2 linked regions of the Homo sapiens genome follow. The protein of the gene in region 1 binds, or shares a complex with, the protein of each later gene. Each region holds a gene or a part of one and is shown on either strand. Other genes may lie near its edges.

Evidence for each region. The genes of interacting proteins can lie anywhere in the genome.
Region 2: the proteins of FKBP3 (region 1) and MTOR are in contact, whole or in part, in a crystal structure (PDB 5GPG), measured with the Homo sapiens proteins. Residues at the interface, in NP_002004.1 of Homo sapiens: Lys160, Pro161, Leu162, Ser163, Lys170, Tyr198, Lys201, Gly202, Gln203, Pro204, Asp205, Ala206; in NP_001373429.1 of Homo sapiens: Glu2032, Tyr2038, Phe2039, Gly2040, Arg2042, Tyr2088, Val2094, Leu2097, Tyr2105, His2106, Arg2109.

Annotation. Positions count from the first base shown.
Region 1 is NC_000014.9:45,131,449-45,139,141, forward strand, and holds the start of FKBP3 (peptidyl-prolyl cis-trans isomerase FKBP3), read right to left. Parts: upstream 3,034-7,693; 5' UTR 3,009-3,033; coding exon 2,901-3,008; intron 2,807-2,900; exon of another isoform or gene 820-2,806; coding exon of another isoform or gene 811-819; intron 1-810. Other genes in the region: FANCM (Fanconi anemia group M protein), read left to right, coding at 4,584-5,091, 5,621-5,793. UniProt on the Homo sapiens protein: FK506- and rapamycin-binding proteins (FKBPs) constitute a family of receptors for the two immunosuppressants which inhibit T-cell proliferation by arresting two distinct cytoplasmic signal transmission pathways. PPIases accelerate the folding of proteins.
Region 2 is NC_000001.11:11,126,552-11,133,584, forward strand, and holds part of MTOR (serine/threonine-protein kinase mTOR), read right to left. Parts: intron 6,647-7,033; coding exon 6,529-6,646; intron 4,227-6,528; coding exon 3,978-4,226; intron 3,288-3,977; coding exon 3,187-3,287; intron 2,401-3,186; coding exon 2,304-2,400; intron 2,002-2,303; coding exon 1,903-2,001; intron 1,576-1,902; coding exon 1,453-1,575; intron 1,256-1,452; coding exon 1,073-1,255; intron 594-1,072; coding exon 459-593; intron 246-458; coding exon 71-245; intron 1-70. UniProt on the Homo sapiens protein: Serine/threonine protein kinase which is a central regulator of cellular metabolism, growth and survival in response to hormones, growth factors, nutrients, energy and stress signals.

The DNA of each region.
Region 1 (7,693 bases):
TGACAAAACCCCATCTCTACTAAAAATACAAAATTTAGCTGGCCATGGTGGCGCATGCCTGTAGTCCCAGCTCGGGAGGCTGAAGCAGGAGAATGGCGTGAACCTGGGAGGTGGAGGTTGCAGTGAGCCGAGATCGCACCACTGCATTCCAGCCTAGGTGACAGAGCAAGACTCTGTCTCAAAAAAAAAAAAAAAAAAAAAAAAATCCTAGCTGTCTGACACTAGACAGGGGACTAAGCTTGTCTAAAGACTCAGCCTCCATATCTGTAGTGGAAGATTAATAACAGCGTCTACGTCAAAGAGTTGATATAAGGATAAAATGCAAAAATCCATTTAATGCATTTAGCATAGAGCCTGTCACACAGTAAGAACTTAATAAATATTGGGATTATGATTAATACTGTATTTAATAACTCAAGGTAACAGCGGAATTGCTTTTCTTTCAAATATAAGACTGCTAAGATGGCAGATGGACACTAAAATACTACTGCTGAAATAGCAAGTCGTAGTATAACTTTATCTGAAAATCACGTAATTGTGAGGATTTCCATAACTTCTTTGTTTCCTTATTTTATTCTGCTTCTTTTTCTGCCTTGTGGTCCTTGCTTAATTCCTAATTTTGTTACATTCTCAAAGTTGTCCTTTGGCATCTTCTAAGCTTTTGATAAAGCAGTTAACATTATTAGCAGTTAACAGCTAACACTATCACTATTGTATTTTTTTCTTTTGCTTTTTCTTTCAAAGATATGTTCTAAATAACAGCTGATGGGGAAAGGAGACAAAGTTGACTAAACGGAAGTAATCAGTTACCTTTAGCATGCTGGTGGTTTCTTGTTAAAGATTCCAGAAAATACCCAAAGCATAAAAGCATAAACATCTCTTTGATATCTTATGATTAATAAAATAATTATTGTCAAGTATAGGTCTAAGTGTTAATGATCACCGGAGATTATTATTATTAATTTTTGAGACAGAGTCTAGCTCTGTCGCCCAGGCTGGAGTGCAGTGGCCCAATCTCGGCCCACTGCAACCTCCCCCTCTTGGGTTGAAACGATTCTCCTGCCTCAGCCTCCCGAACAGCTGGGATTAGAGGCGCCCACCACCAGGCCCAGCTAATTTTTTTTGTATTTTTAGTAGAAATGAGGTTTCGCTACGTTGGCCAGGCTGGTCCTCAATGCCTGGCCTCAACTGTTAGTCAGGATGGTCTCGATCTCCTGACCTCGTGATCCGCCCGCTTTGGCCTCCGAAAGTGCTAGGATTACAGGAATGAGCCACCACGACCGACCGAGACTATGCATTTAAAAGATTAATGTTATAAAAACATTTTGATAATCCAAGTCTGTTGAAATTCTTCCACGTGGCCCAGTTTTACATACGATTCCACATGGCATGATTTGTTTCATAAGAATATGATGGATGAAGTACATGACTGAGGTATTATTAAATGTTAATGATGTCTATTCTATTGTTTCAGATGAAATACGAATTGGCTTAAGAGAAAATAGTTCCATTAAAATGGGGTAAGATCCCCGACACATGTTCTTTTTCACCCTTGTACCTCCAAACACTGAGAATAGTTCTTGTTACAGATGTTGTATTAATATCTGCTAAATTAATCTAAGATGCGGATGCCAGGATAATAATTAAGGAAGAAGGCACTGGAAGTTGGAGAGTTCTTCTATCTCCCTGTCATGACGCCCGCCCAAAATGAAAATAAAATATAAGCTTCTCAAAATAACCCAGAAATAGTGGCTCACGCCTGTAATCCCAGCACTTTGGGAGGCCGAGGCGGGCGGATCACGAGGTCAGGAGATCGAGACCATCCTGACTAACACGGTGAAATCCCGTCTCTATTAAAAATACAAAAAATTAACCTGGCGTGGTGGCACGCGCCTGTAGTCCTAGCTACTCGAGAGGCAGAGGCAGGAGAATCGTTTGAACCCGGGAGGCGGAGGTTGCAGTGAGCCGAGATCGCGCCACTGCACTCCAGCCTGGGCAACAGAGAGAGACTCCGTCTCAAACAAACAAACAAAAAAACCCAGAAACAGTTTTTCTAAATGAAAAGTTTAGAATTTTAAAAATTGTATAGAAAACACAAGCAGGCTGCCGCTTGTAAGAGAATGCTGCGTGCACAACTATTTCAGCAATTTAACAGGTGCATGAATGAACTTATTTTCCAAAGGAAAAACAAGTGTAACAAAAATAACTTGACTATAGACGGATGGTTAAGATGGAGACTATGCTGACAAATGGAGAGCCTACAGTATAAAGCATTTCAAATAAATTTCTTAGTCTGTTTATAACAATGACAGACCACTGCACAAGAGAAATGTGCATGTAGCTCCCTTAAAGTATAAAGGTGAAAAGGTCATTTAAAGGGTCGATATGTTAAATCAAAACTTAAACCACAACCTACGGATTTTTTAAAAATCACACGCATTAATGTTCAGTATTTAGTAAACTGTTGAGAAAAGCAAGTTGGATACACCGTTCCCACAGAAATCTTCACATCCCTTCCCATTTCCCTAGTAGCCGGCGCCCCGCTCCCAGGAGTCTCATCCACACCACTATTCCTCGGCCTCTCCGCCCTAGCCCCCAATATCCTCGGGTTCCTATTTTTCTGGCCTCCACCCCCACTCAAGGATCCCAATGAGGTTCTAACTCTACAATTGCAGCCTGTGTGCCCCAAGAAATAAAGCTGCTCCCCTGCCCCAGTAGAGAACGCCCGAGAGGCGGGAGCGAGGCACCAAAGCACAAGCTGGGCCTCTCCGGCCTTCCAGGCCACCGGCCGCGGGAAGACGAGGGCGGGGGCACAGAGGAATACGGAATGTATGGGCATCTCCAGGGGGGTGAGGCGTCCCTCAGCCGCACCAGCCCGGCCGCCCCTACGCCTCTGGTACCGAATCTGAACCGTGTTCCTGCAGAAACTTGATAATGTCCTTCTTGGGCAGCTGCTCACTGCGCAGCTGCTCCACGGTCCACGCCCGCTGTGGAACGGCCGCCGCCATCTTCCCCCGCTGCCTCCGCTTTACTGAGCCAGCCCGCCGCAGTTCGGCATCGCCCCGCCCCCTAGGGCGGGGCGGGGCCACTCACGGAGGTCGAGGGGCGGGCCTCTGCTCTAGCAGTCGGGATTGGGGCCTGTCTTTGAGTGACGTCAAGGCTGTGCTATGAGGGCTTCTTTGTTGAGTCCGGGTTGAAAAACCTACCGCGGTCGTCTCTGCAGTCGACTGAGTAGAAGACCGCTAGAGATCTTCGATTCTGAATTAGACACCTTGTGAAGCGACCTCTGATGGTAGCGACATTTATCAACCATTACCCACATTTAAGGCAGCTATGCCTTTAAAGTCCAGTCTATAACCTGTTAAAAGAAAACAGCATTCAGGCTCCTTATCTCGTTTTATCTAGTTCTAGCCTAAAAAGTCACACCTGAAGTGCTTCAGTCCTTGTCGATCCGAAAACCCATATCCCACCATTTCCCTTTTAAAGATCACACAACCGAAACTTAAATACAAACTGCCCATCCCCTTCCCCCCATACAAATACGAGAAAGTTTGTCCAAAACGAAGTTCAGAAACTTTAACAAATAAAACAATTTATAAAGAAGCCGCACTCAGGATGCCACTTGCTGATGAGAATGACATTATTAATGCTCGTAACTCTGTGATGTATATTTTTTTCTCAGTACACGAGGAAACAAATTTACAGAGGTTACTCAAAGTCAGGTTTAGAGAGAAGTCAGGAATTATTTGAGACAGAAATCTTCGTTAGAGTGGAATAATTGCACACCGACGTTTATTATAATGCTCTTACCTATAATAAAGATTTAATAGTTGAACATCAGGACTCCTTACTTAAAAAAATGTAGGCTGACTCTGGGCATGTTGCCTATGAGTTAGCTCTGCTTTGCAAGGAGCATTAAAAAAAAAAATTCTGACGAATAGCTGGACCAGACCACGTTCACTTCCCTTTAAACAATGAAAATATTAAAATAATGGGTTGCCACTCCCAGCGCGGTGAAAAAGAGACTTGGCATTTTGTTTTCTCAGCCCAGATAGAGATATAAGACAAATTATTCCATCTACACATTTTTGCTTTTCACTTTATATTCTGATTTAAAAGTACAAGGAATGAGGCACGTTAGACGCTCAATAACATTAAGTTCCCAAACTGGTGGCTATTCCATTGTCCCCGGGTATGTAATATTTTACAATAAATCTCTATTATAACATTTTAAGTGATTTATCACGTTAGCAATGACGCCCAGCCATCTAATCATTGGAAACGGAACTTAAATTTAGAGTTTGTTAAAACAAAACACCGGAACCGCACCGGGGACCATATTTAGAGTAACGCCTTAATAATGCGCATGAGTCTCCGGCAGGGCTGTGAAGGTTTCCGGGAAGCCAGCCAATCATTCCCAACGGAAACTCAGTAGCGGCATTTTCAACTGGATAAACTGGCCTTAGTCCCGCCTTCTCGTTCCAGAGTTTTGTGCGAAGGAAACCGATGGGGATCGGAACCGTAGCGGTTGAGCTGCTGCTGCTACGGATATCTGACAGAAGCCTTCGGTGGTTGTCGGCCTAATGAGCGGACGGCAAAGAACGCTTTTTCAGACGTGGGGCTCAAGTATCTCCCGATCATCTGGGACTCCGGGTTGCAGCTCCGGAACTGAGCGACCTCAGAGCCCTGGCAGCTCCAAGGCGCCTTTGCCAGCAGCAGCGGAGGCTCAGCTGGAGTCGGACGATGATGTGTTGCTTGTCGCGGCGTACGAGGCTGAGCGGCAGTTGTGTCTAGAGAATGGCGGGTTCTGCACCTCCGCGGGCGCCCTGTGGATTTACCCTACCAATTGCCCAGTGCGGGACTACCAGCTGCACATTTCCCGGGCTGCTCTGTTTTGCAATACGCTGGTGTGTCTGCCTACCGGACTGGGAAAGACCTTTATTGCCGCCGTGGTCATGTACAATTTCTACCGCTGGTTCCCTTCAGGAAAGGTGGTCTTCATGGCCCCAACGAAACCCTTGGTGACACAGCAGATCGAGGCTTGCTACCAGGTGATGGGTATCCCGCAATCCCACATGGCCGAAATGACAGGTATCTTAGACTGGACTAATTTTGAAGTAAGAGCTGGGAATTCCTGACCCATGTGGAATAGTTCCCAAGCTACAACATGTGCATCTTACGCCCTCCCTCTTAAAACATTCTCTACTTGCAGCAAGCCCAAAACTGATGAATAGGGTTGCTTTATTCAATCTTCAGAGAATATCTGCAGCTTGTCATAGTATTTTGAAGCTATTATGTGCGTATACCCCATGGGTAACTGAACATGATATTTCCTGGCATTCTTCCTGAAAAAGATTTCTCAGTTGAAGAATTTGCCTCTCTTCAAATATGCCATTTTGTAGGAATTTTCTAAAGACAATTTGGTTGTAGTCCTAGATAAGTGCCAGCTTTGATATTTGGACCACACCAGAACTTTAAAATGTAGCATTCCGATGAATTGTCAAATTGTTTTTCTCTTAATGTTACCAAAGCATGTTTGCATTCTGAAAAAGCCAGACTATTTATATTTTATAGATAACAGTCTGAAGTTTAGAATGTAGAATGTCACTTTTATTTTCAGGGTCTACACAAGCTTCCACCAGGAAGGAAATATGGTGCAGTAAGAGAGTGCTTTTTCTTACACCTCAGGTCATGGTAAATGACCTTTCTAGAGGAGCTTGTCCCGCTGCTGAAATAAAGTGTTTAGTTATTGATGAAGCTCATAAAGCTCTCGGAAACTATGCTTATTGCCAGGTAATAATTTTGTTAAACGGTATTTTGTATTGTAACTGTACTGTTAAAGAGAATTTTGGCGAATAGTTACTAGTGATGGAAGTTATTGACAATATTATTATAAAAAGCCTTTACGTCTATTATCTCAGAACAGATGGTGATAAAGAATATCTGTACTTTCTGTCATCCATTCAAATCAGTGTCTTCACTGCCTTTTGCTGTTATTGTTGTTTTCTTTTTCTTTTCTTCTATTTTAAGACTAACCAGATAATTAGTGTCAGATGTAGATCATGAGAGCCTAGTCATGGTTGGGACAGTGATCTAAAATAGGGTATGAAAGGAGTTTTGAAATTAATAAAGATTGGTAGTGGATATGCGGTGTCTCTTCTTGGCGGCTAGGTAAAATAATGACATAATGTATGCCACATACCTAACACAGTGCCTTCCAGTTGAGTACTCCAGGAATATAAAATAAGATGAAGTAGTGGGATGTGGTTGCAAACATCATTCATATCTTTGCACTGAATGAAGTTGACTTTCTGTTTCCCTCTTCTCCTAAGGGGGATTTTGCCTCTTCTACTCAAGGTCCAGGTCATTAATATTTTATGCTTAATAGTTTGAAAGCCTTTGTAGGCCATAGGGGATAAAGGTGGTGGGGACTCATTAAAAAATGTTTGGCTGGGATAACACTTAAGATTTGAAAGAGATTAGAGAGAAGAAGGCTAAAGACAGAGTATCTAATGAGGGGTAGAAGGGATGTAGGATGACTTCCAGATTTCTGACTTGGAAAACTGTGAAGATTGTGAGTTCTGGGTGGAGAGCAGGTTTAGGGGGAACGTGGAAAGATGATTTAGATGTGTTGAGTTTGAGGTGTCTATGAGGAATTCAGCTGTAGATATTCATTAGGCGATACTTGATAGAAGTATGGATCTTGCTGGAGAGTTCTGAGGTAGATAGAGATACAGATTTGGAAATTATAAACATATAGATGGTAGTTAAAACTATAGTAGTTGGTGATGATAGGAGGAGATTATAGAGCAAGAATAAAAGAGGGAAAGGTAGGGAAAGTTAATTTCATTTAGGGCAAAGACATGAATTTCTCTGCCAGTTTTTGAATTTGTATAGTCATTTCTTTGGGGACTGTAAACGTTATTGTATTATATCTCTGTATTAGGGATAATTGTCATCTTTTTTAATAATTGATCTTCCTAATTATATTCAGGAAATGAATATAATATATTTTTCCACTTATTGATATCATTCCAAATTAAATTAATACATAGCATGTTAAAAATTTCCATCTGAGAGGGGCATTTAAAAAATTTTAGCTTGAGGCCAGGAGTTTGAGATCAGCTTGGGCAACATAGTGAGACCCTGTGTCTACAAAAATGAAATGAAATAATAAAACACTTAAAAATTTTTTAAAATTCAAACTGTATGGAATACGTTTTGAAGATTTAGCTGGTAATTATTTTATTTTCAAAACATTTCTAGGCATTAGATTTTTTTTTAACAGCAAGGCTTTATGAATATAATGAAACATGCATTGACTTCATTAATAACCAGACAGCCCTGACAGCTTACACCGCATTGAATATTCCAGATATACATTCCAATAGGTACACCTGCTCCATGAGGCACACACCACCATTTCCTCTTCTACAAGATGCTTGAGAATTCTTCGTGAAAAGAAGTAATGTATTTGGCTTACTTTTCATATGTAATAGTTCTGGAAGGCATATTGATACATGTGCCATATAACAACAAAATGATTTCACTCAAAACTGCCTCACAATCTGAAAGAACACTTTGAATTTTGGCTATCATACAAAACATTTTTAAAAGCATCAATCCAGTAAGCAATCTTTTTGTCTTCCTTACTGCACTCATGACTTTTCAAAAATCCTTCTATTATATGTAA
Region 2 (7,033 bases), on another chromosome or scaffold:
AGAAGAGGGAAGGGGTCTCAGCCAGTGTAGGAGGGAGAAGTGGGTGACAGAAGTGCACAATGGTCCTTACCCATAAGTGTCAATTTCCGGGGCCTCTGCTTGGATGTGATGACTTGCAAAGACGGTGCTATGGACTGAATGCGAATGATTGGCTGGTTGGGGTCATATGTTCCTGGCACAGCCAATTCAAGGTCCCGGCACATCAGAAGTTTTGGGGAAACATATTGCAGCTCTAAGGATGTGAGCTGTAAATAATTACCAAAGGATTTAGTGTTCTGCCTCCAGGGAAGAATTTAAACGCAATTTAAGTATTTTTCAGTGGATTGCTAATAACAATTACTTGTCCCAAAGCAGAAGTAAAACCAGATGCTTTGGAATGAGTGTTAGAACATTCATAGACAGTAAAACAGAAAGGACTATAATGACAGTTAACCCTGCCAGGAGCCTGAAGATCCTACCTGAGGCAGCTGCTTTGAGATTCGTCGGAACACATGATAATAGAGGTCCCAGGCTTGGGTGAGGTCCTTGACATTCCCTGATTTCATGTACTTCCTGCACCACTCTTGGGCCTCCATTAAATCTCGACCATAGGCCTGAGAGAGAAAGCAGGCACGTTTTCAAGTTATCAAAGTCTCAACCAACCCAGGAGGCAAAATCCCCAGGCTGACTGCAGATATTCCTCAGGAGCCCGCTGTGGCCTGAAAACACTGGCAGGGGGCTGGAGAAAGCAAGAGCATAGGTGCAGGCCTCCAACCCTGGAGCTTCCAAACCAGCAGCATGGCTTATAGGGAAGGAAGGGTGAGAGGAGAGACGAGATGACCTCTTGAGAAATCTTGGGCTTTTCCAGTTAAAATTCAGAAGGGTCCCTGTAACTAATTTCTGATGTTTTATGCTCTGTGACCTCCATCAGAGCTCGTTTTATTAAAGTCAGTGGAAAGGCCAGAGGAAAAGAAATCTGACAAAGGCCTTGGGTCACGTCCTTTCATTCTATAAAAACTTTTCTCATTTCATTTTTTTTTAGTGGCAGAATATTTCTACAGGGTTATGTCCTTTCGTGTTTTTTACCCCATACCTGATTAAAGGATGTTTCCTTCAGAGTCTGGGGGCCCCGTTCCATCATAGCATGCAAGGGCTCCAGCACCTCAAACATGCCTTTCACGTTCCTTTCCCCAAAGTACAAACGAGATGCCTCTTCCAGGCCTTCATGCCACATCTCATGCCAGAGGATGGCCACTCGGATCAGCTCCTCGCTCACCTGAAGCCAAGAGAAGAAGGAGAGAAGCATCAAGAATCAGCTAACCTCAGAAAGGTCTGTTTTGGAGACACAGGAGGTACTATTTCCAGCAGTCAGAGGAAGTGCACAGCACCAATGCGAGGAAGAAAAACAATCCCACTTGCGCCCACCAGCTAAGGGACCAGGGTCTATGAAGCCCCACAGTGGCTCCGACCCACCATCATGGCCTGCTGGACCAGGGTGTTGCTGTGCTCACACATGTTCTTCAGAATCTTGTTGGCTGCATTGTGCCGGGCTGTCGTGGTAGACTTAGAAGCCACTGTCAGTGGGTAGATGAGGGCCTGAGGGAAAAACAGAAGAAACATCTATAAAGGAAATGTGGGTTGGGGAAGAGCTGGTATGAATTTTAAGGAGAATAACAAAACAAGTGGTGAGTGTGACATTAACATCTGCTTGAGACTACCAGGAAGGGGCTCAGTCTTCGAGGGAACGCTTTCTTTTTAGCAAGGCTCCCGGGCCCTCTGGGACGGCTGGCTGGACAGACCCTCCTGGGCCAGGATGGAACACATGGCTCCCAGTTCCTGCGCTTGTGTCGCCAGGGCAGCTTTTGGAAAGGCTGACCACCAAACCAGTGGTTAGATGAGAAACTGCCCAGAGTCTCCACATACCTGGGGGTGGTACCGACCAATGTCTGTGAGAAGCTGGTGAATGAGACGTCCCACCAAGGGTCTGGGCGTATCAATTCTTGCAATGAGCTGAGGTATAACCTGGTATTCAAAAAGACACAGTATGTAGCATATGAGACTTGAAACAACTAGTTATTCTTCTAGGCAAAGATCAATTCTTTTAACTTGTTTCGGTTGATGCTCTGAAATGGTTCATTCCCTTCCCTTTAGTTTCTAAAAGAAAATAAAGAAAATATGGACACTTGACACTGGGACCGAGCCCTACTTCCTTAGCACTGTATTAACACACACTGCCTTGTGACACTGAACACAGCATGCTTGTAAGAGGAGACACACAGAAGAGAGACTTGGAGCCACCTTCACCTGTAACCAAGTATCCTCACCTGTAGCCAGGTATCAATCTGGATGGCTTTCACCCCCTCCACTAAGGCCTCATTGACATCTGGCCAGTGACCATAATCAAACCATAAGGTGAGAACTCTGAAAAAGAAATGAGAAAGTCACAGAAAATTTAGTTTCCCAGTTTTTGCCTGCCTGTTTTTCATCTCTAAGGCTCCTGAGAAGAGAGCTGGCAGGGACTCCAACCAGTAACTCTCAAATGTGTTTGGCCTCCCATGGGAGCAGGTGTCTGTGATGGGTGGCAGTGCTCTTGACTGAACACCGTAAGAGTCACCCTGAGCAAATGAGCATTTCATCCCAGGTCACCGAGGGGTCACCATGGCATGTATGCAAACATCAAACAGACGAGCCAGGATAACCTTTAGAAAGCCACAAGTCTGCACATGTAAGAGTCGCTGTACGGCAGAGGCAACAGGGACACCTGGCTCTTAGCTGGCTGGAGATCCTCAAATGAAGGAGGATGTGGACCTTGTCACCTTTACCCTCTGGGTTAACTGATTTGAGTCATTTGTTTAGACCTCTCCAAGTTGCTGAGGGATTTTAGAAATACTGTGACTTCAATAGGCAACAGGGTGGTCAGAAAAAAAGAAATATTGTGATTAACAGATGGGTTAATAATCCCTCCATAATAAACCACACATGGAGAGTTCTCACTCCACTTCTCCTCCTCACTCTCTGTAGGTTTCACCCACACAGGTGGGGCCCAGTCAGCTGTTACTCCTTAAATGCAGTGCAGAAAAAAGGCACATACATCGATCTTGGGTGTCCTGATCAGGGTCAGGAAGGGAAAGAGGACTTTTACGTGTGACTTCTAGGTCTTGCCATTAACATGGCCTACCAGAGTTGCATCCTTCCCTTCTCTGATACCTGAGTGTATCCTGGAGGTTGTTGCCTCGTGACAAGGAGATGGAACGGAAGAAGCCCTGGACGGCAGGCACCGTGTACATCAGGAGGGTTTTGGACAGATCCTGTTGGAACACACACGTGTTAGCGACACTCTTGCCTCTGCTTTCTCATCTGTAAAATGGGCATAAGAGCATACTAACTGTACCTACTTCAAAGGGTGGTTATAACAATTAAATCGGTTAATGCATGAAAAATCTTTAATCATTACCTGGCACATAGCAAAGACTCAATAAATGGCAACTGTATCATAACTGTTATTATCTTGGGCTGACAGTGGCTTCCTGAACAGGATGGAGGGAGGAGGTGGAGCTGAGGCTCTGAACACCCGGATCTCTGGGCCTGCCAGCGGCCCTGGCGCATTCTGAACTGACAGCCCAAGGGGAAGGGGAAGAAGTGGAAGTGGAGAGAAAAAGGCAGAGGATGGACCTCCCAAGCCCCATCCTCAGAGTGGACCCGCAGCTGTGTACAGCCACCCACACACAGGTGCAGCACGTAGAGAATGAGCTCGTCCACAGGGAAGCTTGACAAGGAGCTTGCTCTTCAGCATAGAGGCTGCGTCAGCTCCCCAAACACAAATATTCACACACAAAGCCCTATCTCAGGCAGTGCTGGATGGTAGATAGGCAGTATTTTCCAGCTCCATCTGGCACTTCAGATACAGCCTCAGGTTCCTTTTAAGCTTAACAACGATTCCATTTCTCAGAGAGCCTGGCACCTTGGTTGGTTGTTAATAAGGAAGAAGGGAAGGGTACCTCAGTGACCTTCTTCTGCAGCGGCGATGGGGTGGGGCTGTTCTCGGTGCTCTCGGCCTCGCTCTCACTGTTGCTGCCCTCGGTGCTGGCAGTGGTGGTGGCAGTGGCGGCCGTGGTGGCGGCAGTGGTGGCGTTGGTGATGTTGGCCCCGCTGGCATGACGCAGTTTCTTCTTCTCATCGCGGGCTTGGTTCTGATGTTTGTAGTGTAGCACAGCTTCGAAGTTCATCACTGCCCACGCATGCCAGGCCTGGTTGGGGAGAAAGGCAAGGACAGACACTGGAGCTGTGACCAACAGCAGGGCTCAGAGGAGCGCAAGGTCGATGCTGAGGAACAGCTGCTCCTGCCTGTTCTGTGTGTCCATAAAGCAAACACTTCAAGGAGACACTCAGAAATGGCTGTTTTACTAAATTCAACATGATCCACTCACTTTGTGGAGCACTAACTATATAACGTACTATGAGTGCACTGCGAGAAGGGCACAGCAAGAGGAGCAGGAGAGAGCTCTTGCCTCAAGGGATCTCCCGGCCTCCTAGGGGAGCTCACGCACAAACCTGAAGACCTAGGTACTCTGCAAGGCACAATGGGAGTAGCAAGGACAGGCATTTGGAAAGCTTTGTCAAGAAGAGGGATTTGGGGTAGGTCTGGAAGAGAGCTGCAGAAGGGCAAGGAGGGAAACAAGAAGGCAGCGGTGGGGACTACTTGGCAAGGGGGAAGAATAAGGCCAGAGATGTGCAGATTGGTTCACGGGAAACAAGCCCATGAATGTGACCGTGCAGGGGATACATGCAGGCGAGGAGTGAGAGCGAGGCCAGCAAAGCACGCCTGGAGCAGGCACAGGGCTGGCACTTTCACCCAGAAAGCAGAGCTGCACTGGGTATAAAGTGTACATTTAGGGGAGAGCAGAAATGGCAAGCAGAAGTGGGGGCAAGCAGCAGTCATCACAATATTTCAAGGGAGCAAAGTTTTGACAGGTCACCAGATAGTGGACAAAGGAAGACATGAAGAGCATAGGAGCCTGACAGAGAAAGAATCTCACCCATCTGCCTGGTCCCAACACCTAGCCCACGGCCTGACAGAGAACCAGTGCTCAATGCTTGAAGGAAGAACCGCTGGTGCTTATTTGGATAAAGGAATACTACTCTCTCTGGGGTTCTGAGCGGCAATGACTCTACAGCGTACCACCACTTGGTTTAGCGAGTGTGAGGCAGAGTTTGCTTCCAGGCATGGTAACTTTGCAGTGATAGTAGGACACTACGTGACCCATTAATAGCTGAACTTTCTGAATAATTGGGAAATTCGTTTGTATGCCTTGCCAAAAACCTTGAACACAGGTGTATCCGTTTTCTCAACTAAGGAGAATAGATTGATCACAACTAACCTTTACTTGATGAGTAAGAATTCTACAATGACCCAGGTTTCAGTTTTCCCATACCTTCATTTATTCACTGAATATCTCTTGTGTATCTGCTATGTGCCTGGCAATGACCTGGGGTCAAGGTGAACAAGACAAACAGTCCTGGCATGCATACAGGGCCATGACGTTGATGGTAGAATACATCATAAAACAAAAGGGACCCACATTAGGAAAAGCTTTTAAAAACTAAAACTAAAGTTCCTGAAACCAACTTTTTTCTTGTGATTTGCTTACTTCCTAAAAGCTTAATGAATGAAAGTAACTCTGGTTAGAATACAACTCTGATTAATAAGCTTCCAGTTAATAGTGTTTACCGGATGTATTTTCCAGCTTTGGACATGCAAGCTGTCCTAGAGAGAGTATTACTCTTATGACAAAATGGACATTTTTCAAACCAGAATGAAGCATGCCTAAACAAAGGTAAGATCTGTATTATAAGTGCTTCTGCAGTCCTCAGATACAAGTTTAGATTTCAGAGAGATTAATTCACAAAGTATTGGCAAGCCAAGGAAATACTGGAAAGATGTCAATGACATCTGCCACACCAAGTAGTTACCAGAAAGCCTCTCAAAAAGAAATAAGAAAGTATATTCTCACCAAAGATATACACTTCCAAAAATCACCCCTCCATCAATCACATCTTTTATATATTTTCTAATTCTGTTTATCTCTTTCAAAAGTTTCCTGTAACATAACAGGATGTTACTTGGATCTTTCCAATAAAAACAAAGAAAGTTAAGTTCTTAGCTGAGGAGCAGGCAAGGATGCAAATCAGAAAAACGCTGAACAAGAACAGATGACCTAAGGGAAGATGTCACTCCAGAGATTAACCATGTGTCCAGATGCTCCCAGGAAAACAAGCAGCTCAGAGTCTGTAAGACAGCAGCAATCCCCAACACCACATACACATAATAATGGTGTAACAAGTATTTCTCCAATAATCTTTCTGTATTAATTAAACTTGTAGGGGGAAATGCAGGCTCCCTGGGCCTCTTATAGATAGGCTCCAGGGACTCAAGGAGTAAGTTCACAGCATCAGCCTAGCTCCGCAGAAGCTCAGCTGTAACCACGAGCACACAGGAGGACACGAGCCAGCCAGGGTGCTGGGTCTCACAGGTGGCCTGCTTCTGATCACCTTGTACCAGCTGCGGTCGTGCTCTGTGGCGGCGCTGTAGTACTGCAGCACTTTGGGGATTGTGCTCTCATTGATGCCCTGTAGATTCAGCTGCCACTCTCCAAGTTTCAGGAAGCATCTGGAAGCAGAGAAACAAGCCCCCATGACATTCCCTCCTCAAAACAGCCCTCCTAAGAGGACCACAAATTGTTAGGGGACACTGAAGCCCTTCTGGTATTTCCTCTTATTCTCAAGAGGCAATGTGAAGGAGCTAGCAAAATTTTCAGCCACACGCAAGAAAGGAGATGGGCTTTTGGAATACATTTTTAAGATACCATCTTTCCATCTTGACCTTTGTCTCTCAATGACAGCATAAACCATGTACCTGGTACAGATAGGTCTGTATGGACTTACCTACCCCAAACCCAATTTTTTGTGGGTGACAGTTGAGAGTTACTTCTTTATTGATTGCTATATGGCTTCTCCCTTACTTTTCCCTTTGCCTCCATTCTTTGTAATGAGATTA